Homo sapiens: one gene and its partners. The protein of the gene in region 1 purifies or fractionates together with the protein of each later gene. This does not show direct contact. Each region holds a gene or a part of one and is shown on either strand. Other genes may lie near its edges.

Evidence for each region.
Region 2: the proteins of UPP1 (region 1) and CDA purify together in Homo sapiens (co-immunoprecipitation; one large-scale study listed by IntAct). This does not show direct contact.
Region 3: the proteins of UPP1 (region 1) and CTPS2 purify together in Homo sapiens (affinity purification with mass spectrometry; one large-scale study listed by BioGRID and IntAct). This does not show direct contact.
Region 4: the proteins of UPP1 (region 1) and RPAP1 purify together in Homo sapiens (affinity purification with mass spectrometry; one large-scale study listed by BioGRID and IntAct). This does not show direct contact.
Region 5: the proteins of UPP1 (region 1) and TANGO6 purify together in Homo sapiens (affinity purification with mass spectrometry; one large-scale study listed by BioGRID and IntAct). This does not show direct contact.
Region 6: the proteins of UPP1 (region 1) and RIC8B purify together in Homo sapiens (affinity purification with mass spectrometry; one large-scale study listed by BioGRID and IntAct). This does not show direct contact.
Region 7: the proteins of UPP1 (region 1) and MTUS1 purify together in Homo sapiens (affinity purification with mass spectrometry; one large-scale study listed by BioGRID and IntAct). This does not show direct contact.

What each region holds. Positions count from the first base shown.
Region 1 is NC_000007.14:48,102,765-48,106,264, forward strand, and holds part of UPP1 (uridine phosphorylase 1), read left to right. Parts: intron 1-532; coding exon 533-647; intron 648-1,017; coding exon of another isoform or gene 1,018-1,097; exon of another isoform or gene 1,098-1,503; intron 1,504-3,500. UniProt on the Homo sapiens protein: Catalyzes the reversible phosphorylytic cleavage of uridine to uracil and ribose-1-phosphate which can then be utilized as carbon and energy sources or in the rescue of pyrimidine bases for nucleotide synthesis.
Region 2 is NC_000001.11:20,595,597-20,599,096, forward strand, and holds part of CDA (cytidine deaminase), read left to right. Parts: intron 1-3,500. UniProt on the Homo sapiens protein: This enzyme scavenges exogenous and endogenous cytidine and 2'-deoxycytidine for UMP synthesis.
Region 3 is NC_000023.11:16,699,170-16,702,669, forward strand, and holds part of CTPS2 (CTP synthase 2), read right to left. Parts: intron 1-3,500. UniProt on the Homo sapiens protein: Catalyzes the ATP-dependent amination of UTP to CTP with either L-glutamine or ammonia as the source of nitrogen. Constitutes the rate-limiting enzyme in the synthesis of cytosine nucleotides.
Region 4 is NC_000015.10:41,530,758-41,534,257, reverse strand, and holds part of RPAP1 (RNA polymerase II-associated protein 1), read left to right. Parts: intron 1-3,055; coding exon 3,056-3,235; intron 3,236-3,500. UniProt on the Homo sapiens protein: Forms an interface between the RNA polymerase II enzyme and chaperone/scaffolding protein, suggesting that it is required to connect RNA polymerase II to regulators of protein complex formation.
Region 5 is NC_000016.10:68,927,031-68,930,530, forward strand, and holds part of TANGO6 (transport and Golgi organization protein 6 homolog), read left to right. Parts: intron 1-537; coding exon 538-1,053; intron 1,054-3,207; coding exon 3,208-3,265; intron 3,266-3,500.
Region 6 is NC_000012.12:106,777,682-106,781,181, forward strand, and holds part of RIC8B (chaperone Ric-8B), read left to right. Parts: intron 1-3,500.
Region 7 is NC_000008.11:17,752,595-17,756,094, reverse strand, and holds part of MTUS1 (microtubule-associated tumor suppressor 1), read left to right. Parts: intron 1-133; 5' UTR 134-287; coding exon 288-2,378; intron 2,379-3,500. UniProt on the Homo sapiens protein: Cooperates with AGTR2 to inhibit ERK2 activation and cell proliferation. May be required for AGTR2 cell surface expression. Together with PTPN6, induces UBE2V2 expression upon angiotensin-II stimulation.

The DNA of each region.
Region 1 (3,500 bases):
TCTGAAGAGGAGAGCAGGAGAAGGAGGTATGCAGAGACCCCAAAGAGAGGAAAAGGCACAGGCAGACAAGATCAGCAAAGCATCCTGTGTCCAGTGGGCTGAGGAACCAGCTGATTACTTAGTTTGTCTGAAGCAGAGGGTGTAGGGAGAAAAGAGAAAGGAGATAAAACTTTAACCTGTGGTGGGGTGTGGGAGAATAGGGTGGGTATTTATGCAGGGCTTCAAATGCTAGAAGGAGCTGTTTGTTACCTGGCAATAGCAGACTGCTGCTTCCCTGCTGAGCCCCTGGGTCCGCAGCTGTTACCTATTTGACAAATTGTGTCGATCAAATGGGGTTTTGTCTTTGACAGCTTTGCATACACTTTAAAGTTTCCCAAAGTGTTACTAGTTCTTAAATTTATATTTAAAAAGTTTATCTTTCATCACTATGTCAATGGGCATGTTAGATTGAATTACATCACATGAAACATCAGCCAGAACATTGACAAAGTCACAACCTTGGCTTAACATGGGTGTTTCTCCCTGGTTCCAGCATGGTATGGGCATTCCTTCTATCTCAATCATGTTGCATGAGCTCATAAAGCTGCTGTACTATGCCCGGTGCTCCAACGTCACTATCATCCGCATTGGCACTTCTGGTGGGATAGGTAAGGTCTGCAGAGGGGCCTCTTGCCCTGTGAATGGATGAGGGACTGGGGCATGCCAAGGCAGCTTCTACATGGTGTGGCATTAGAGACAAAGAGTTCCTTTCTTGGCTTTGTTCAAGGGAAGCTTGTTAACAGGAGGTGTGAAAAGAAGCTTGTTTTGTTGTTTTTGTCCAACCTGTTCTCCCAACCCGCACCCCAGAGCTAGGCAGTAGAAGGGCACCACACCATGCATATGGGGGAAACTCATCCTTTTGGGGTTACACAATTTGTGCCTTCTTGTCTGCTTGATTCTGTCTTATTCTTTCTAATCCCCCTTCTTCTCCATTCTCTCCTTTCCTTTGCTTACTTTTCCTCCTCCCTAATCCTGCAGGGATTTTGAAGCACCTTAGGAGAAAAGACACAGGAAAATCAAAGGGGGGAAGAGAGAGGCGCAGTACAAAACTCAGATAAGTGTCCTTAAATTAGCTTAAAATGTCCCTATCCTCAACAGGGACATTTTTTTTTTGTTTAAAAAACAAAGATGGTTGGCCGGGCGCGGTGGCTCACACCTGTAATCCCAGCACATTGGGAGGCCGAGGCGGGCGGATCACAAGATCGGGAGATCGAGACCATCCTGGCCAACATGGTGAAACCCCGTCTCTACTAAAATACAAAAGATTAGCTGGGCGTGGTGGTGCACGTCTGTAGTCCCAGCTGCTGGTGAGGCTGAGGCAGGAGAATCGCTTGAACCCGGGAGGCGGAGGTTGCAGTGAGCCAACATCGCGCCACTGCACTTCAGCCTGGCAACAGAGCGAGACTCCATCTCAACAACAACAACAACAAACAAACAAACAAAAACCCCCACAAACATGGCAAAGAAAGAATGAGATTTAATGAGAAAGCAAAAGCTAACAAATTGTTGAATTGTAAGCCAAAGTCTGTTAGGCAGATTTGTTTTAAATACGTGGTCTTGCTCTCTGGGGTTCCAACTCTGTGCCATTCTTTCTGCTAAAAACTGGGTTCTAGTGATTCCTGCTCCCACCGAGGTGTTCAGAGCTCAGGGAAGAAGCCTGCATGTGCCCTAGAGAAAGTTGAGCTTTGCCGCTGCTGGCCAGGCCTGTGTGTACTTGTTCCAGGCTGTCTAGGGCCTGGACTATCTAGGATTTATAGCAATTCTAGAATTTAAGTGTCCTGACCTTGAAAGGGGACTTGCTTTAGACCCAAATATTTTGAATATGTTATCTTGTCTCTTTTCTTTTTGTTATATAGAGAGATTGATGCATAAAATCTGTGTTTGTATGACTGTAATTCCAAGTTTAGCGAAATTGTCCCTAGGACAACACACCAACGGCCATGAGCTGTCTCGGTCCTGCAAGCTTAGTCTCCGATGCTGCCCACCTGACACAGCTGTGCATAGCATGCTGGCCTCTGCCAGGAACTCTAGTGAATGGTTCTTGAGTTCTTGCTCTGGAGTGATTTTTAAAACAATGATCAGATAATTCTGGAGGGAGTAGTATAGATTTTGAATTTTCCTCAATTGCTCTGTAAAAATGGAAAGAGCAACTAGGGAGCAAAACCAAAAACCACTGGACACAGTTGATAATAAAAGGTGATGTGCTATCCTCACAAACCCCAAAGTATGAATGGGTGGAGACAAAAAGCCTCAGGATCTGGTTGTGTTGGCAGCTGCTCAGGGGGAAGCTCAAGGCGATGGACAGACCTGAGAACAAGAGTCCCAGGCACTCCTAGGAAGGTGCAGGGGGACATGGTGAAGATGGCAGCTGACACTGGAGGGGGCCTGTGCGTCCCAATGTGAGTGATGCTGGAATTCCAAGGGGCTTGACCACTCCAGGCCCTGTGGGTTCACCAAGGCATCAGCCAAGCTCTCCTCTAGCTCCAGCCCCAGTGCTGGGAGAAGCTGCTGAAATGAGACTCTGAATTGCCCAGAACAGCCGCAGGAGTAGCAATGGAAAGAGGAGTTCAGATACATGTGGGGAGCGAAGCAAAGGTCTTTGCAATCGGCCATGTTTTTTAATGTTTCATGAAAACAACTGACTTGGGAGCTCTGGAAAAGATCTGACTTCTTGTTCCCTCCCACATGTTTAGGAAAACCAATTTTGCATTAAAATAAGTATCAGAAATGGATCATAGTTATCTTAGTCCCTGCAGGTTGATAGACAAGATGCCATTGACTGAGTGGCTTATAAACAATAGGAATTTATCGCGTAGTCTGGAGGCTGCGAAGTCCAAGGTCAAGGAGTCAGCAAACTTGGTGTCTGGTGAGGGCTAACTTTCGGATTCATAGAGCTCTGTTTTCTCCCTGTGTGCTCACATGGCAGAAGGGGCAGGCAGCTCTCCGGGGTCCCTCTTATAAGGGCACTAATCCCACTCATGCAGGCTCCACCCTCATGACCTAATCACCTCCCAAAGGCCCTGCTGCCTGAAACCATCACATTTAGGGTTAGGATTTCAGCCTATGAATTTTGAGGGGGAAACCAGCATTCAGTCCAGGTCCATAACAATGGTCAAATCCCATCTAAAATTATTATAACACAAAGAATAAGGGGCAGAGTAATGTCCCTACAAACAGGAAACTACTCCAGGAAGGCACGCCCAGAACATAGAAACTGGACCCTAATAATGCATCAATCTGAGAGGAAGGCCAGGTAGGTCAGGAGTTGGTCATAGCTCACCTGGGTTTAGGGTGTGGGACTTCATTATACTGTTCTAGTCTGCCTTTTGCTGGTTTACTTTTCAAGTATTTGCCTGAAATCTTAAATATTAACAAGGTATGAAACAGGGATCAATGAAACACATCATGGTATATGGTTCAGTGACAGACAACAGTGGGAAATCGCCGTGAATGGAAGCAAG
Region 2 (3,500 bases), on another chromosome or scaffold:
CAGTTAGTCCTCTCCACTGTCACTCAAAAGTGGCTCATTTTGTGACCAGCCTAGGCAACAGGGTGAAACCCCATCTCTACAAAAAATACAGAAATTAGCCAGGCGTGGTGGCACATGCCTAGAGTCCCAGCTACTCGGGAGGCTGAGGCAGAAGGATGGCCTGAGCCCCGGTGGTGGAGATTGCAATGAGCCGTGAGCACGCCACTGCACTCCAGCCCAGCCCGGGCAACAGAGCAAGACTCTCTCAAAAAAAAAAAAAAAAAAAAGGCCAGGCACGGTGGCTCATACCTGTAATCTCACTCAGCACTTTGGGAGGCTGAGGTGGGTGGATCACCTGAGGTCAGGAGTTCAAGACCAGCCTGGCCAATATGGTGAAACCTCGTCTCTATTAAAAATACAAAAATTAGCCAGGCGTGGTGGCAGGCGCCTGTAATCCCAGCTGCTCAGGAGGCTGAGGCAGGAGAATCGCTTGAACCTGGGAGGCGGAGGTTGCAGTGAGCTGAGATCGCACCATTGCACTCCAGCCTGGGTAACAAGAGTGAAACTCCATCTCGAAAAAAAAAATTGTCTCATTACATAGGCAAGCTTTACTACAGTCCCTCGACTAAATAGCTGAGTTCGAATATAATTCATACCTGAAATGGTGCATTTGCAGTGGGAGGAGGTTAGGAACATGGAGAGAGTGTCGTATTTCTTCAAGTATATGGACAGAACATTCCTCACGTGATTCTCAAACGTGGTCCCAGAACTGCAGCCTCAGCAGCTCCTGGGAACTTGTGAAAATTTGAAATTTTTGAGCTCCAACCCAGCCCAGACCTATTGAATCAGAAACTCCAGGAAAGAGGCTTACAAGTGTGTTTTAAGAAGCCCTCTACTCAGGAGGCAAAGGCAGGAGGATTGCTTGAGTCCAGGAGTTCAAATTCCAGCTGGGCAACTAATAACAAGACCCTGTCTCTAAAAAATATAAAAATAAATAAATTTAAAAAGAGAAGCCCTCCAAAACATTCTGATGCCCACTTGCTTGAGTGTGAGAATACTGCTTTAATCTTGCTAGGATCCCTCAGAAAAGAGAGTGGGTGCAGTGCTTTCTGGCATTATTCTTTTCTCTGGGTGGCTGGGCCCAAATAGCCTCATTGTGAGCTTCTTTCCCTGTTGATGTCTTTTTTTTTTTTTTTTTTTTTTGAGACAGGATCTCACTCTGTTGCCCAGTCTGGAGTTCACTGGCACAATCTCAGCTCACTGCAGCCTCGACCTTCCTGGCTCAGGCGATCCTCCCACCTTAGCCTCCCAAGTAGCTGAGATCACAGGCATGCACCACCATGCCTAGCTAATTTTTAAAATTTTTTGTAGAGACTGGGTTTTGACATGTTGCCCAGGCTAGTCTCGAACTCCTGGACTCAAACAATGCACCCACCTCAGCCTCTAAAAGTACTGGGATTACAGGCGTGAGCCACCACACTCAGTCTTGCTGATGTCTTAATAACATCTGACCGCAGCCCTGCCTTAAGCACCAAACCACCTCAAAACATGGCCTTCCTTCCTGCAAGGCCATAGAGAATAAGAAGAGTCTGGCCGGGCGCCGTGGCTCACATCTGTAATCCCAGCACTTTGGGAGGCCAAGGCAGGTGGATCATGAGGTCAGAAGATCAAGACCATCCTGGCTAACATGGTGAAACCCCATCTCTAATAAAAATACAAAAAAAATTAGCCGGGTGTGGTATGCAATCACAGCTACTTGGGAGGCTGAGGCAGGAGAATGGCGTGAACCTGGGAGGCGGAGCTTGCAGTGAGCCAGGATCGTGACACTGCACTCCAGGCTGGGCGACAGAGCGAGACTCCGTCTCAAAAAGAAAAAAGAAGAGTCCATCGTATCTCACAGGCCAGGATGCATGTTTTGGCCTCCTGCCACCAGCCTTCACTTTTACCTTCTGTAAAATGGTGTTCTAACAGTATTTACCTTACCCAACAGTTAAAAGGATTAACTGACCTTATGCAGGTAAAGCACTCCACAGAGTGCCTGGCCTATGAGTGCCCAGTAAAAGAAAGCAATTAGTAATACTGGCACTATGATCGTAGTATTATTTGGTCCTATCTTATTATTATGGATTTCTAACTTAGCACCATCCCAATCTCTCTCATGTATGTTTTGAAGTAAGCAAAGGCAATAGCAGAAACAGAATTGGTTTGCCTGGTCAGAAGACAGCCTGCTTTCTGGGCTGAGAGAAGCAAAACAAAATTGCACAGCATTTCAGGATGCAGTACGTGGGCAAAGGCTTCCTTCCTTTTTTTTTATTTGCCTTTTTTTTTTTTTTTGAGCTAGAAAATTCAAGGAAATTACTTGAATTTGTTACAGGCTCCAAATACAGTTATTCCTCTGCGTCTTAAGCATCTAGAACTGAAGTGGAAAATTCCACTCTTTCAATAATGGTTAGCCATCTTAGCTCAGGCCATGCTGTGGTTTGAAGGTTTGCCCCCTCCAAAATGCATAAGCGTACTTTGGAGGGCTTCTCTTTTCAAATTTATTATTTATATACACTTTTAGAGACAGGGTCTCGCTATGTTTAATTGCCAATGCAACAGTGTTGGGAGGTGGGACCTAATAAGAGGTGTTTAGGTCATGAGGGCTCTGCCCGGTGAGTGGATGAATACCGCTATAAAAAGGGCTTACAGTATGGATTCTCTCTCTTTCACTCTCCTGCCACATGAGGAATAGTGTTCCTCCCCTCCAGAGGATGCAATGTTCAAGGCGCCATCTTGGAAGCTGAGACTGGGTCCTCACTAGACACCAACTTGCCAACAGCTTGACCTTGGACTTCCAAGCCTTCAGAATTATGACAAATAAATTTCTGTCCTTTATAAATTACCTAGTCTGGGATATTACGTTACAGCAGCACAAAACGGACTAAAACAGGCTGCTATAACAAAATACCATAGACTAGTGGTTTAAACAGCAGACATTTATTTCTCACAGTTCTGGAGGCTGGGAAGTCCAAGATTCAGTTCTTGGCGAGGGCCCTCTTTCTGACTTGGCCATTTTCTCACTATGCCCTGACAGGATGGAGAGAGAGAGTTTAAGAGTCTCTTCTTCTTCTTATAATAGCACTAATCCCATCATGGGGGCTGCCCCCTCACGACCTAATCTAAACCTGGTTATCTCACAAATGCCCCACCTCCTAATAGTATAGCGTTGAGGGTTAGGACTTCAACAGAAGAATTTTAGGGAGACACAAACATTCAATCCATAAGAGAAACTGAGAGCCCCATGACTTCACTGTTCCAGGCCCAGGACATACCACAACACATGTTAGAGACAAAATCTCTGCCCTCAGAAAGTTTGTAATATAATAGGAGGAATTAGATAATAAAGACATTTATTTCAGGAGACTGTTAAGTGCTATGAAGAAAATTAAAGCAGGAGAAATGGATACAGAGAGTTGGAGGCAGTAGTGGGAGGAAGCCATTTTAGATAGGTGATCGGAGAAAGCGTCTCTGAGAAGGTG
Region 3 (3,500 bases), on another chromosome or scaffold:
AAAAGCTGGTAAAAGATGTATTTGTAAGCCATATTCTATCACCATCTCCTTTTTGGTGGAGATATTAACAATTCAATTATATCCAAGAAAATGCATCAGAAAATTCTATTTATAATATTCTATTGTGGTTTTTTTTTAATCTACTGAAATTCTGTCTTCAAGATTTAGCTTTTCCAAACTCAACATATGCCACATAAAAAAGACATGAAAACAGAAATTTTAAAAACAAACAGCATTTTACTTCAAAGCATCAGTATCCTGGACTCTGGAACTGCGATAAGAAACTTTTACTTGATTCTCATCTTGATTAAAGCCATAATTAGACAGTAGATGACAAAGCAAGGCCACAGCTAACCCATAAGGCAACTTGGTGAAAGTGAGGGAAAAAGCCTGTGTGTGCCATAAGCTACGTGCACAATGCACTGTCATAAAAGACAGGTGCAGACTTCGTCACACGAGGAGCACCAACTTTAACTACTAGACACGTCTGTAGATCTCTATTGTCACTTCAGGGCATGGACTGAGAGTCGTATGTTTCTAAAGCCACCTTGTAAGAATTGAACCTTTCCCCTATTAAGGGAACTATCATTTATTCCTACTGTTAGATGTCCACAGGAAAAAAGGTTGATTAACTTACAAATTTAATCAGAAGCCTTTTATATCCTAATTTATTTATCCATTCTAAGGTACATAACTGTGGTCTAGAAAATTAATTTTAAGGAAAAAAGCAAATTGATATCACAATACTTTTTTTTTCAATTTTTTTTTTCAATGTTTTTTTTTGAGACAGAGTTTCGCTGTCAACCAGGCTGGAGTGCAGTGGCGTGATCTCAGCTCACTGCAACCTCCGCCTCCTGGATCCAAGCAATTCTCATGTCTCAGCTTCCCAAGTAGCTGGGATTACAGACATGTACTACCACGCCTGGCTAATCTTTGTATTACCATTATTATTATTATTATTATTTTGAGACAGGGTCTCACTCTATCGCCAGGCTGGAGTGCAGTGGTGCGATCTCGGCTCACTGCAACCTCTGACTCCCTGGTTCAAGCAATTCTCCTGCCTCAGCCTCCTGAGTAGCTGGGATTACAGGTGTGCACCACCACACCCAGCTAATTTTTTTGTATTTTTAGTACAGACAGGTTTTTACCATGTTGGCCAGGATGGTCTCCATCTCCTGACCTCGTGATCCACCTGCTTCAGCCTCCCAAAATGCTGCGATTACAGGCGTGAGCCACCGTGCCCGGCCTATTATTTTTTTAAATAGAGACAGAGTTTCGCCATGTTTGCCAGGCTGGGTAGGAGAATCGCTTGAACCTGGGAGGCGGAGGTTGCAGTGAGCCGAGGTCACACCACTGCACTCCAGCCTGGGCGACAGAGTGAGACTCTGTCTCAAAAAAAGAAAAAAAAAATCATTAAAAAAAAATCCAAAGAAAATTTGGTGTAACACATGGCATTAGTCAATGGTGCCACACAACAAACAACCCCAAAATCTCTGCAACTTACAAAACATTTATTTATTTCTCCCTCATGTTACATGGGGGCTATGAGTCACTTGTGAGTCTATTCTTTGTGTCTTCTCATTCCAGGACCCAGACTGAACGAGAAATCTCTGAAAACCAGGCTGTTCTCATGGTAGAGGGCAGAAGCACAAGACAGACTGAGCCAAACCACACAGATGCATTTGACATTTTCTGCTTCAACAAGGCATATGTTAATATTCCCTAACATCCCATAGGACAAAATAAATCACATGGCCAAATAGAGTGACCAACCTGCTTGGTTTGCCCAGGACTAAGAGGGCTCCCAGGACACAGGACTTTCTGTTTTAAAATCAGGAACATTCCAAACAAACCAGGACAAGTTAACTATCCTACGTGGCCAAACTCCAAGGTCAAAGGGCAGGGAAATGTACTCCACAGAGGGATGGTGGGTAACATTTTGAAGCAAAAATACAATCTACCACAGACTTGAATAAGTCATTCACAAACAAAATCAAAATCAAAGAACTCTAAATTAAAACAATAAGATACCCTCTTTTTGTTTGTTTTATTCTCAGGTTAGTAAAGTTTAAAACACGATATTCAAGGCCTGGTGCAGTGGCTCATGCCTGTTGCAGTGGCTCATGCCTGTAATACCACCACTTTGGGAGGCCGAGGTAGGAGGATTGCTTGAGCCCAGGAGGTCGAGACCAGCCTAAGTAACATGGCGAAATCCCAGCTCTATAAAAAAATTACATAAATTAGCCAGGTGTGGTGGTGCACACCTGTAATCCCAGCTACCCAGGGGACTGAAGCAGGAGGATCACTTGAGCACAGGAGGTGGAGGTTGCATTGAGCCGAGATCTTGGCCACTGCACTCCAGCCTGGGCGATAGAGTGAGACCCTGTCTCAAAAAACAAAAACAGGAAGACAGGATAGCAACAAGGGACACAAACATTTTTTTTTTTTTTGAGATGGAGTCTCACTCTGTCACCCAGGCTGGAGTGCAGTGGCGCAATCTCGGCTCACTGCAAGTTCGCCTCCTGGGTTCACGCCATTCTCCCACCTTAGCCTCCCGAGTAGCTGGGACTACAGGCGCTCGCCACCGCGCCCGGCTAATTTTTGTATTTTTAGTAGAGACGGGGTTTCACCGTGTTAGCCAGGACGGTCTCGATCTCCTGACCTCGTGATCCGCCCGCCTCAGCCTCCCAAAGTGCTAGGATTACAGGCGTGAGCCACCACGCCCGGCAGGACATGAACATTTCTGTTTCTTGATCAGGGGCTGGTTACACAGTGTGTTCATTTAATGAAAATTCATCCAACTGTACACTTATGATTTATGCACTTTTTTGCTTGTATATAAAAAGGTTTTTTTGGGGGTTGGTTTTTTGTTGTTTTTGTTTGTTTGTTTGTTTGTTTGTTTTGAGACAGAGTCTCGCTCTGTCGCCCAGGCTGGAGTGCAATGGCTCGATCTTGGCTCACTGCAACCTCCGCCTGCCAGGTTCAAGTGATTCTCCTGTCTCAGCCTCCTGAGTAGATGGGACTACAGACACGTGCCACCACGCCCAGCTAATGTTTTGTATTTTTAGTAGAGACAGGGTTTCACTGTGTTAGCCAGGATGGTCTCGATCTTCTGACCTCGTGATCCACCTGCCTCGGCCTCCCAAAGTGCTGGGATTACAGGCATGAGCCACCGCACTGGGCCTTATAAAAAGTTTTTTAAAAATAGCATGTAAGGGCTAATGCCATTTTAAAAATAAATCAAATATACTCATACATCAAAATGTCACCATTAATAATAGTTACTCCAGGCAGTGGGAAATGTTAAGAGAAACACACTACCTTTATGTTAAAAATAAAACAGAATCTGTAGTGCAAAAGATACAATGTTTCCAAAAGGGATGATTAATTTGGAATGTCATCAGAGGTATGAACAATGTATCAATGACCATGAGAAAATTCACATATTCATAGCATACGATCTAGTCACTCTAAATCTGGAACTACATCCTAAAGAAATT
Region 4 (3,500 bases), on another chromosome or scaffold:
TTAGTAGAGGTAGGGTTTCTCCATGTTGGTCAGGCTGGTCTCGAACTCCCAACCTCAGGTGATCTGCCCTCCTCGGCCTCCCAAAGTGCTAGGATTACAAGCATGAGCCACCATGCCCGGCCTTTTTTTTTTTTTGAGATGGAGTTTCGGTCTTGTTGCCCAGGTTAGAGTGCAATGGCGCGACGTAGGCTCACTGCAACCTCCGCCTCCTGGGTTCAAATGATTCTCCTGCCTCAGCCTCCTGAGTATCTGGGATTACAGGTGCCCACCACCATACCCAACTAATTTTTGTATTTTTAGTAGAGACGGAGTTTCACCATGTTGGCCAGGCTGGTGTCGAACTCCTGACCTCAGGTGATCCACTGGCCTTGGCCTCCCAAAGTGCTGGAGCCACTGCGCCTAGGTTTTTTTTTTTTTTTAAGACGGATTTTTCCTCTTGTTGCCCAGGCTGGAGTGCAATGGCGCAATCTCTGCTCACTGCAACCTCTGCCTCCCAGGTTCAAGCAATTCTCCTGTCTCAGCCTCCAAAGTAGCTGGGATTACAGGCGCCTGCCACCATGCCTGGCTAATTTTTTTATTTTTTGTATTTTTAGTAGAGACGGGGTTTCCCTGTATTGGCCAGGCTGGTTTCGAACTCTTGACCTCAGGTGGATCAAAGTGCCTCCCAAAGTGCTGGGATTACAGGTGTGAGCCACCGTGCCTGGCCCCCAGCGAATTTCTTTTAAGGTTTTTGTAGAGATGAGGTCTCACTATATTGCACAGGTTGGTTTTTGTTTTTTGTTTTTTGTTTTCAGAGTCTCCCTCTGTCACCCAGGCTGGAGTGGAATGGCACGATCTCGGCTCACTGCAACCTCTGCCTCCCAGGTTCAAGTGATTCTTGTGCCTCAGCCTTTTCAGCAGCTGGAATTAGAGGTGTGTACCACCATGCTTGGCTAATTTTTTTTATTTTCAGTAGAGATGGGGTCTCACCATGTTGGCCAGGCTAGTTTCGAACTCCTGGCATCAAGTGATCCACCGACCTCAGCCTCCCAAAGTGCTGGGATTACAGGCATGAGCCACCGTGCCTGACCTTTAATGCATTATTCAGTTCTGTCCTTAAACTTGTCCTGTGAGGTAGGTGGTATTAACCCTATTTTACTTATGAAAGAAACTGAGGCCTAAAATTTAAAAGAAATTCTACCCAGGTCACACACCTTATAAGAAGCACAGGACACAGGATTTAAACCCAGATCTACCTGGTCTCATATGCCCTGCTTTTTTTTTTTTTTTTTTTTTTTTTGAGACGGAGTCTCGCTCTGTTGTCCTGGGTGGAGTACAGTGACACGATCTCAGCTCACTGCAACCTGTACCTCCCTAGTTCAAGCGATTTTCCTGCCTCAGCCTCCTGAGTAGCTGGGATTACAGATGTGCACCACCACACCCAGCTAATTTTTTTGTATTTTTAGTAGAGATGGGTTTCACCATGTTGGCCAGGCTGGTCTTGAACTCCTGACCTCCAGCGACCCATCTGCCTCGGCCTGCTGAAGTGCTGCGATTTTTTTTTTGAGATGGTCACCGTGCCCAGCCGAGGCCCTACTTTTTAACCACTGTGCTATGTATAACTGTACTACCCTGGTATAGTATACACTATGCTTTATTATAGCTATACTCTAGTATATGTATAGTCTCTTCTACTCTGTGATACTGTTCTATGCTATGCCTCACCCCTAGTGTCTGTTCACCAAAATGCCAGGCACTCAGTCAATCTTGTTACCCACTGTATACTAGCACCTCTATAGAGTATAATACGTGTTAGGGCTCAGTATGGTGCCTTGCCCTGTAATTCCAGCACTTTGGGAGGTTGAGGTGAGAGGATTGCTTGAGGCCAAGAGTTTACGACCAGCTTGAGGAACATCATGAGACCCCATCTCTACAAAAAATAAAGATATAAAAAATTACAGCCAGGTGTGGAGGCTCACGCCTGTAATCCCAGCACTTTGGGAGGCTGAGGTGGGCGGATCACAAGATCAAGACATTGAGACCATCCTGGCCAACACGGTGAAACCCTGTCTCTACTAAAAATACAAAAATTAGCTGGGCGTGGTGGCACACGCCTGTAGTCCCAGCTACTCGGGAGGCTGAGGCAAGAAAATCACTTGAACCCGGGAGGCGGACCTTGCAGTGAGCCGAGATCGTGCCATGGCACTCCAGCCTGGGCGACAGAGTGAGACTCTGTCTCAAAAAAAAAAAAAAAAATTAGCCAGATATGGTGGTGCATGCCGGTAGTCCCAGTTACTTGGGAGGCTGAGGCGGGAGGATTGCTTGAGCCCAGGAGTTTGAGGCTGTGGTGAGCTACGATTGTGCCACTGCACTCCAGCATGGGTAACAGAGCAAGACCCTATCTCTTTAAAAATATATATTTACAGCCTGAGCAACATGGTAAAACCCCGTCTCTAGTAAAAATACAAAAATTAGCCAGGCGTGGTGGCAGGCACTTTTAATCCCAGCTACTCAGGAGGCTGAGGCAGGAGAATCCCTTGAACCTGGGAGATGGAGGTTGCAGTAAGTTGAGATTGCACCACTGCACTCCAGCCCGGGCGACACAGCGAGATTCCGTCTCAAAAAAAAAAAAAAAAAAAAAAAAAAAAAAATATATATATATATATATATATATATATGTGTGTGTGCATAAATAAATTAGCTAAGAGAAGGAAATTCTTTCTGTAAATGCCTTCTTTTTGGCCCTAGTCAACATTAACTTATTCATTCTACAGCCACTTACATTGGAACTGTGACCTGAAACCAAAGGGATAGGCATAGGAACCTGGGCCAGTGGACTGTGAGGGATAGAGGGAAAGGTGGGCAGGTGGGCAGGTGGGCCTAGTGACCCCACAGGTGTGAGAAGGCTGGGTCATTGATGGGCCACAGGAGCACCCAGAAGGCTCAGGCCCAGGCTCGGAAGCAGCTTGTCCTGTCCTTGGCACCCACAGACAGGCGATATTCAGCGGGTTCCAGGTCTGTAGGAGGCCAGGGAGGATCTACCCTCACTCACTCTCCCCTCTACCTTCGCCTCTAGACCCCAGCTTGGTTGCTTTCTTGAGATCTCACAGCCACACGCAAGAGCAAACAGGAGAGACAGCCTCTGAGGAGCAGAGGCCAGGAGGACCCTCTGCTAATGTCACCAAGGAGGAACCCCTCATGTCAGCTTTTGCCAGTGAGCCCAGGAAGAGAGACAAGCTGGAGCCAGAAGCCCCAGGTTTGCAGGAGGCGGGGGTCATATTTTGGTGGATAAAAGTAGGGGAAATTGTCCCTTTTCCTAGGCCTGGCAAATGAGAGAAGAGAGAAGCTTCTGTGCTTTTGGACATCTAACATTAATCCTCATTATTGGCTTCAAGTCAGTCTTCATTGCTGATGCATGTCTTCTTCCTGCACATGCTTCCTGTTTTCTTGTCCTGTTACTGCCCCTTCTCCGCCTTCCCTTTTAAGAGGCAGCAATGCGTGATGGCTGAATCCCACTCCAC
Region 5 (3,500 bases), on another chromosome or scaffold:
ATTTTCACTTCCACTTTCCAGAAGAAATCCCTTTCTTCCCGTTTTCTCTGTGATCCCTTCCAGATCTATGGTGCACTTGCATACTGACTGGCCACTTTAGATCATGTAGTTAAGAACAGCCTTATCTTTTCAAGGGAGACTGCGTAGGGTATTGGGTGAGAGTGTGGGCTCTGATCCCAGTTTCTTGAGTTCACATCTTACTATCTTCCAGTCTGTGACCTTGGGCATGTTACTTAACCGTTCTGTTTCCACCTGTTTAAAATGTAGATAATAATAGTCATTATATCACAAGGATATGAATGTGTGTGTGTGTGTTTTATCTTAGAAAAGAACCTGTATATGATAAGTGTTCAATAAATGTTAGGTATGATTATTCAACAAATGGTATTCAGTGCTGGACCCAGGCAATACACTGATTACACCATGAGCAAGATTTGATCCCTGCCCTTTTTTCTCAGAATATGTTTCCTGGTGCTCAGGTCATATTGAAATTTGCTATGTTAATTTGGGTTTGACATTTTTTATTTCATTTTGTAGTTGAAGTCAAGTGATTTTGCTGTTCTGAAGCAGTTGTTGCCTCTGTTGGAGAAGGTATCCAACACATACCCTGATCCGGTCATCCAAGAACTCGCTGTTGATCTCCGCATCACCATCTCTACCCATGGAGCCTTTGCCACTGAGGCCGTCAGCATGGCTGCCCAAAGTACACTGAACAGAAAAGATCTGGAAGGGAAAATAGAAGAGCAGCAACAAACCAGTCATGAAAGACCCACTGATGTAGCTCATAGCCACCTTGAACAACAGCAGAGCCATGAGACAGCCCCCCAGACAGGCCTGCAGTCAAATGCTCCAATCATTCCTCAAGGAGTCAATGAGCCCAGCACTACTACAAGTCAGAAATCTGGAAGCGTAACCACAGAACAGCTCCAAGAGGTTCTTTTGTCAGCTTATGACCCTCAAATTCCAACACGGGCTGCTGCCCTGCGTACTCTTTCCCACTGGATAGAGCAGAGAGAAGCAAAAGCCCTTGAGATGCAAGAGAAGCTTCTCAAGGTGAGTAGAACACACTGTAAAGACACATGGGCACAGGGTGGGGCATTCATTCAACTCAAGTATTTTTGGAGCCTGGACTATGTGTCAAGTGCTGTTCTGGACCACCCTCCAGAAATTTGTGAATTTTGTGAGGAGGCAACACTTAGACACAGGAAAGATTTATTTAGACACAGGAAAGACTTAAACTCCTCAAATGAATATGAACTGAGTGCCAATTTTTTTTTTTTTTTTTTTTTTTTGAGATGGAATCTCGCTCTGTCCCCCAGGCTGGAGTGCAGTGGTGCAATCTCGGCTCACTGCAAGCTCCGCCTTCTGGGTTCACACCATTCTCCTGCCTCAGCCTCCCGAGTAGCTGGGACTACAGGTGTCTGCCACCACCCCCGGCTAATTTTTTGTATTTTTAGTAGAGACGGGCACCATGTTAGCCAGGATGGTCTCGATCTCCTGACCTCGTGATCCACCTGCCTCGGCCTCCCAAAGTGCTGGGATTACAGGCGTGAGCCACCACACCCATCCTTCAAAATTTTTGCATGCAAGAAATGCTGTGGGCAGTCAGGAAAAAGAGAAAGTTGAAATCTTCTGGAGGATGTAGGCCTTAATATGGCCATAACAAACTAGTAAAGTTTGAGCAGATGAAAGAGGGGTGGGATAGCTTGAACAAATTCCCAGAGATGGGAAAGTACCTTTTGTGATAAATAGGTCTGCTTCAACACTGTGACCCAGCCCAGATAAGCCACCTGTTTTCTCTGGGCATCTTTAGTGGGGCGTTGGGCAAAACTGGGTCTCCTCCCCTCTTCTCTCCCTTCATCGTGGTGAAATAGCTGTTTTTTGTTTTGTTTTGTTTTGTTTTTTTGAGACAGGGTCTCGCTCCGTCGCCCAGGCTGGAGTGCAGTGGTGCGATCTCAGCTCACTGCAATTTCCACCTCCTGGGTTCAAGTGATTCTTCTGCCTCAGCCTCCCAAGTAGCTGGGATTACAGGTGCCCACCAACACACCCAGCTAATTTTTGTACGTTTAGTTGAGATGAGGTTTCACCATGTTAGCCAAGCTGGTGTTGAACTCCTCACATCAAGTGATTCACCTGCCTCGGCCTCCCAAAGTGCTGGGATTACAGGCATGAGCCACCGCGCCTGGCCTTAAATATCCTTTTATACACCTATTTGAAGGTGAATTCAATGAACATCTTGGAATTTTTTTTAGCTTAATTAAACCTTCTTCTGCTGTACATAATTGGTCACCAAGTCCTGTCAATTCTTTTTTCAAAGAAGTCTTTCAAATGTATCTTATCCTCTTTATTTCCATGGCCATTACCCTAAATTAAGCTTCCCTTGCTTACTCCATAAAAGATTCCCTACCTTCAAAACTGGCCGTCTTCCTAACTGGGGTAATTTTAGGCTCTCCGTACATACTTCACATGTAGAGACCAGCAGCATCAAGTTGATGTCAAGAATTACTGTGCCAACGAAGAACACAGCATTATATATGGAGCAGACACTTCCGTCTTCCTTTCTCTGGCTCTCATGTTGGGGCCTAAACCTAACATATCATGTAATATCTTCCAGATAAGCTGTACTCACTGTAGTTGATACCCCTGATAGGTTCCTAAATTGTAAGATATTTTGAGAGTAATTTGTTACTAATATCAATTAAAGTGCTGAAATTTACAAGATTTTCAAAAATAAATTAGAACAGATTCAAAGTTATCTCAATAATAACATCTCTATCTCACTTGCACTTCCATATGCTTTGTGAGTACAAGAGAAAAGGATCAAATTGCAGCAAATGTGCCATCCATTGCACATAACCCCAAACCTTGTCTCTTGTGTGTCACACCCCGTAGTCTGTCATGCCATATGTGAGAATGTTATTCACCATGGCTGTCATGGAAAAATGTTGAGGATTGTTCTTCCATCGGTTTCCAGGACTACTGCTGGAAGAATACAAGTATCTCCCCCAGTCTCTATACTTTTTTAATGGTTATAAAAATGAGACTTAAGCATATATGCCATTTCCCCCACAAAACTCTGTCAGACCAGTTTCTACCCAAGAAAAACAAGAAGCGAAGCATTTACTCCTTTGAGCTGCTGATAAGGGAGCCTCTTAAATCTTCCTTGTTCTTTGTAAATCTTATCACTGCTGTATTTTGTGGTTCCAGATATTCTTGGAAAACTTGGAACATGAAGACACTTTTGTATATCTATCTGCAATTCAGGGTAAGTCAGTCCTGGTTAAAGGACTTTAAGTATGTGGACCAGAGACTGTATCATGTTTATTTGCACAAAATCTCTAAAGTCCTAGGGCCAGGAGACTACTGGTCATTTTGTCCGTCTTCCTGCCTCCTAGCTAGGACACTTTAAGTCATAATAATAATATTCCTGAAGGGTTTCCAAAGAGTCCCTATAGAGTTTCAGTGTCTCATAATGATGAGGAAGTTTTTATTAATGTTTA
Region 6 (3,500 bases), on another chromosome or scaffold:
CATTTATTAGCTTTATGACTATGGATAAATTATATTAAGCCTGTGAGTCTCAGTTGCCTTACCTGTAAAATAGGGATAATATCACCATTCTCTTAAATTATTGTGAGGATTACATTAAATGAAATATAATGCCAACACTGGGCACAATGCACCTAGGAAGCACTCAGTAAGTTACAGTTATAATGACCAGGGTACCTAAGAGGTGTGGCCGGAGCACAGGTTCTGTAGCCAGCCTGGCTATGATCCTCAACTTAATGGCTTGTGTGACCCTAAACGAGTTACTTAACTTTGCTGTGGCTTAGTTTCCTCATCTGCCAAATGGAGATAATAATAGTAACTATATCATAGATTTGTTGTCAGGATTAAATGAGTTACATGTGTAAAGCACACAGAACAGTGCCTGCCACTGAGGAGGCACCCCATAACTGTTAGCTTTGAACAAAAAAATTAAACGTGGCATGAGTTGGGATAGCACGATATTAAAATTTGGGAATATGCTCCATTCTTCCCCTTCTTTTTCTAATGGGTAGCAAAATTGTACCTTGTACCGCTTTTAGAGATACCTGTCGGGCTCCGGGAAACATCTAATTTCTACTGTGTTATATAGATTCTCATTTCCAAGCCTTCTTGCTTCATTCACTGACCTTTGTTATCTTGGAGAGAGGAAATATGTATCTATCCCAGAAAGAATGAAACTTGTCTGTTTGTCAAGGGCATGACACAGCATAGGTCTCAGCATAGGCAAGTTTTTTTGTTTGTTTGTTTGTTTAATGGGAGGAGCAGTTGTTTTTCTCTCCTCTCAATGCACCTGTTAACATTTATTGAGTGCCTGCTATGTACTATGTATTATCCCAAGCATTTTCACATTTCGTATGTCATCTTATATTAATTCCTCTTATATTAATCCTCTTATATTAAAACTTATGAGGGAGATGGAAGTATTCTATATACAGGCTCAAGGTCACATAGCTAAGAAATGGCAGACCTGGTCTTCAGATTCCATATCCAGGGATCTTTTTGCAGGGCTATGTTGCCTTTACCCTGTCTCTTCTGTGTTTTTGAGCACAGAAAAAGTTTCTTTTTCAGGAGTGGTATACTACGGTTATTCCTCAATATCCAAAGGGGATTGCTTCCAGGATCTCCTGTGGATACCAGAATCTGTGGATACCAAAATCTTCTAATGCTTTAGTCCCTGATAGAAAACACCATAGTATTTGCATATAATCTGGGCACACCCTCCATTTTTTTGAGATGGAGTTTTGCTCTTGTTGCCCCAGGCTGGAGTGCAATGGCGCGATCTCGGCTTATCATAACCTCTGCCTCCTGGGTTCGAATGATTCTCCTGCTTCAGCCTCCTGAGAAGCTGGGATTACAGGCATGCATCACCATGCGCGGCTAATTTTGTATCTTTAGTAGAGACGGGGTTTCACCATGTTGGTCAGGCTGGTCTCGAATTTCCGACCTCAGGTGATCTGCCCGCCTCGGCCTCCCAAAGTGCTGGGATTATAGGCGTGAGCCACTGAGCCTGGCTGGGCATATCCTCCTATATACATTTTTTTTTTTTTTTTGAGACAGAGTCTCATTCTGCCGCCCAGGCTGGAGTGCAGTGGCTTGATGTCGCCTAACTGCAGCCTCCGCCTCCCAGGTTCAAGCGATTCTCCTGCCTCAGCTTCCTGAGTAGCTGGGACTACAGATGTGTGCCACCATGCCTGGCTAATTTTTGTATTTTTAGTGGAGACAGGATTTCACCATGTTGGCCGGGCTGGTCATGAACTCCTGACCTCAAGTGATCCACTCACCTGGGCCTCCCAAAGTGCTCTGATTACAGGCATGAGCCACTATGCCTGGCCTCTCCTATATACTTTAATCTCTAGATTACTTATAATACGTAATACAATGTGAATGGTATACAAATAGTTGTACTGTATTATTTAGGGAATAATGCCAAGAAGAAAAAAAAAAGCCTGCACTTGTTCAACACAGACACACACAAAAAAAAATTTTTTTTTTTTTTTTTCAGATATTTTCAAGCCATTGTTGGTTGAATCCACAGATACAGAATCCTTTGGCTACTGTTGGGTCCTAATCACCTCAACTTTAGTTATAGAATGAACTGTTAATTTGGGGAATTATGTATCATTCCAGTCTAGACTGTTCAAGCTCTTGCTCCCCCACGGGGGCCTGTTCTTTTTTTTTTTTTTTTTTTTTGTGTGTGTGTGTGTGTGTAGAGTTGGGGGTCTCACCATGTTGCCTAGGCTGGTCTTGAACTTCTGGGCCTCAGCCTCCCAAAGTGCTGAGATTACAGGCATGAGGCACAGTGCCCAGCCCTCAGGACTTCTCTAATAACACATTTAGTAGAGAGATTAGTTGCCATCATTATCATGATTATCAACAACAAACTGTGACTAAGGGCCCTGAGGTATGGAGTAGTATCATGATTCTTTACATCGCAGGCTATTTATGTTAGAGGAGCCTCAAAGATAATAGGGCCCAACCCCCTCGTTTAATAGATGACTCATCAACTATGATGATAACCAGAGACGTGGCTTGGTGGCCCTGCAGGCCACCTGGACATATGACTACCCCATACATAGCAAATTCCAGCAGCATTCCAGTTTTGAAGTATGGCAAGTTTTTGGCCAAATGAAAGGTATTTAAGATACAGACAGATAGGTAGGTCTCTAGTAGTAGTCCTCTTAGGAGAAGAAAACAAGACTGCTGGCAGTGAGGTCTTCATTCATGTGCTAGAAGAACCTGATTCATAGAAACCTGATATTGGGACAGTTCTATAAATATAGCCTCTACATTTGAATAGAGTATGTAAATATCCAGGACCATGTAAGAGGACTTTTTGTTTTCTACTTTGGAAGTTGGGCTCTGACTCTTTGATTTCACTCTGTGGGTTCTTGCAGAGAAGCATGTTTAGTGGGCTGTTCCTTTGTTATACTTTGTTCTTATGTCCAGATTATGTTATATAATTTGTTTCTAATTTTTAGTTGTAGAAGCAATCTGTGTTCATGAAACAGCACAACATACACCACGCAATTAGGTTTATTCCCTTGTAGTAGTGCTGTTTGAGTGTATCTTTAGAAATCTATGAAATTATTCCTAGCTCTCTAATAGGTCAATATTTGGCCAGATGCCACACCATAGGTTATTCAACAATAACAGTAGTGGCCATTGAACACTACTGTGTGCAAGGTGCCATGCTTATAAAAAATAAGGAAAATTTGATAGGTAGTAAAGTTGAATAACTTGACCAAGTTTACACTTTTAGTAAACAGTAAGACTGGACTCAAACTCAAGGTTGTCTGACTCCTGATCCTGAGCTTTTTAGAGCTTATTCATGGAGTATGAAACCTGTAGTGAGAGTCCTCATAATAGTCTGGTGTGTCACTGAGCTGTTAGCTTGCTTGATCTCTAAATTGAACAATGGTTTAACTCTTTTTTTTTAAATGGGGTTTTATCGTGTTGCCCTGGCTGGTCTCAAACTCCTGGTC
Region 7 (3,500 bases), on another chromosome or scaffold:
ACCCACATCAGTAGTTGTGGGGTCTAAATGTGAACATAAAGTGATTGAAACTAATCACTTAGTGATTGAAACCAAGGGGTGGCCTGTTAATTTTTCTTATAGTTACTTGAGTTAAACATTTTATTTCTTCCAGGGAACAACAAATCATTTAATCTTCAGAGCATCTTAGACTGAAAACCTTTCAACTGTGCTGAAAAACCTAGAAGACAGACCATTTTGCCCACCCTCTCATTTAAAAGGAATTGAAGAAGAAATAAAATGGCAGAGGTTTAAGGTTACTATTCAGGATGACTGATGATAATTCAGATGATAAAATAGAAGATGAATTGCAAACCTTCTTTACCAGTGATAAAGATGGAAATACACATGCATACAACCCGAAATCACCACCTACACAAAACTCTTCAGCCAGCAGTGTGAACTGGAATTCTGCCAACCCAGATGACATGGTGGTTGATTATGAAACTGACCCTGCTGTAGTTACTGGTGAAAATATTTCTTTAAGCCTTCAGGGTGTTGAAGTATTTGGTCATGAAAAGTCTTCTAGTGATTTCATTAGTAAGCAGGTGTTAGATATGCATAAAGATTCTATTTGTCAGTGTCCTGCACTTGTAGGTACTGAGAAGCCCAAATATCTGCAACACAGTTGTCATTCCCTAGAAGCAGTTGAGGGCCAGAGTGTTGAGCCATCTTTGCCTTTTGTGTGGAAGCCTAATGACAATTTGAACTGTGCAGGCTACTGTGATGCCTTGGAGCTAAACCAAACATTTGACATGACAGTGGATAAAGTTAACTGCACCTTTATATCACATCATGCCATCGGAAAGAGTCAGTCCTTCCATACTGCTGGAAGCCTGCCACCAACTGGTAGGAGAAGTGGAAGTACATCTTCTTTATCCTATTCCACTTGGACATCTTCCCATTCTGATAAGACGCATGCAAGAGAAACTACTTATGATAGAGAAAGCTTTGAAAACCCTCAAGTCACACCATCAGAAGCCCAAGACATGACTTACACAGCATTTTCTGATGTGGTGATGCAAAGTGAGGTTTTTGTTTCAGATATTGGAAATCAGTGTGCATGTTCTTCAGGAAAGGTCACCAGTGAGTACACAGATGGATCACAACAAAGACTAGTTGGAGAAAAGGAGACACAAGCACTAACACCAGTTTCTGATGGCATGGAAGTCCCCAATGATTCTGCATTACAAGAGTTCTTTTGTTTATCCCATGATGAATCCAATAGCGAACCACATTCACAGAGCTCATACAGGCACAAGGAAATGGGCCAAAATCTGAGAGAGACAGTGTCCTATTGTCTTATTGATGATGAATGCCCTTTAATGGTGCCAGCTTTTGATAAGAGCGAAGCTCAAGTGCTGAACCCAGAGCATAAAGTCACTGAGACTGAAGACACACAAATGGTCTCCAAAGGAAAGGATTTGGGAACCCAAAATCATACCTCAGAATTGATTCTAAGTAGCCCGCCAGGACAAAAGGTGGGCTCGTCATTTGGACTGACTTGGGATGCAAATGATATGGTCATTAGCACAGACAAAACGATGTGCATGTCAACACCAGTCCTAGAACCCACAAAAGTAACCTTTTCTGTTTCACCGATTGAAGCGACGGAGAAATGTAAGAAAGTGGAGAAGGGTAATCGAGGGCTTAAAAACATACCAGACTCGAAGGAGGCACCTGTGAACCTGTGTAAACCCAGTTTAGGAAAATCAACAATCAAAACGAATACCCCAATAGGCTGCAAAGTTAGAAAAACTGAAATTATAAGTTACCCAAGACCAAACTTCAAGAATGTCAAAGCAAAAGTTATGTCTAGAGCAGTGTTGCAGCCCAAAGATGCTGCTTTATCAAAGGTCACGCCCAGACCTCAGCAGACCAGTGCCTCATCACCCTCATCAGTGAATTCAAGACAACAAACAGTCTTGAGCAGAACACCGAGATCTGACTTGAATGCAGACAAAAAAGCAGAAATTCTAATTAACAAGACACATAAGCAGCAGTTTAATAAACTCATTACTAGCCAGGCTGTGCATGTTACAACTCATTCTAAAAATGCTTCACACAGGGTTCCAAGAACAACATCTGCCGTGAAATCGAATCAGGAAGATGTTGACAAAGCCAGTTCTTCTAACTCAGCATGCGAGACCGGGTCCGTTTCTGCGTTGTTTCAGAAGATCAAAGGCATACTCCCTGTTAAAATGGAAAGTGCAGAATGTTTGGAAATGACCTATGTTCCCAACATTGATAGGATTAGCCCTGAAAAGAAGGGTGAAAAAGAAAATGGGACATCTATGGAAAAACAAGAGCTGAAACAAGAGATTATGAATGAGACTTTTGAATATGGTTCTCTGTTTTTGGTAAGTAATATATATATATTTTTTGCATGCTTCAGAGAACTGTGGAGAAAACTGAGATGTGTTAGCATTTAGTTATCTATTAGTCAATAATATTGCAGAACCAGGTGGGCAGATTTACATTTAGTTGTTAATTCATTGTCTTGTCAGTACTGGGGTGTTAATAGGTTTCAATACAACAAAACTGCATATGGAAAAAAAAATCCTCAATTTCAGTATTTTGTATCAAGTATCACCGTTCCTTTTAATAGTGTGCTGAAAAATGAAGTTACTTTAATATTTTAGTATAATTAGTAGTTTAAGTGCCTGATACAATCAGGTTATATTTTATTTTTCTGAAAAAGTTGGGTTGTCAACTTTAAAATGTATTGGACAGCATTTAAGAAAGGGCTTGGGAGTGCTGGTAAACATGTCAACATAAAAATAACTCCTGGACTCTTGCGGAGGAGGCAGCTCTGGGAAGTAGAGCCCTCTTGTATGAGCAAGAGTGTTCTTGATTTTTCCTCTGACCGGCCAATAATGATTTTTGGCAAGTAATTTTTCGAGACCCAAAGATGAAAGGATTGGACCTAGTGGATGTGTGAAGCCTCTTGCAGCCTTAATATATTAATTCCTGGTATATAAAATAAAATCTTTTACTTATGTATAGTGAAAAACCAGTATGTTTTCCATAGCGCCTGTCTAAAATATTTGGGGGGGACCTAGAGAGTGCTGTTTAAAGAATAAAGAATTCACATGCAGTGTAAAGGTGATTTTCCTTTAAACATGCATGTGTTTTTGAGAATAGTGTGTAGAAATTGGTTTTCTGGGTTTTAAAAACATTTGACAGGCCACTGTTGGTCGTTGGGCATGTGTCCTCAGCCCTATTTTTGGCAGTGGGGACTTAGGTGTATTTTCAGCCCCAGACAGGCTGTCCTTGGGTGCCTGTCCTCTGGGCCAGGAAGGGAGCTAAGTGCCAGCGGAGAAAGGCAGGTGTGACACAGACAGCCTGTCCCTTGGAGGGCTCGTGGCAAGAGGAATGAAGCACATAGAATAGCAAGTGCAGAAGGGCTGACTTAGGTGTGTCTTCAGGGTGCATGGGGACCACAAGGGAGGGAATTGTCAGGTCCGTTTAGAAGACAAGGT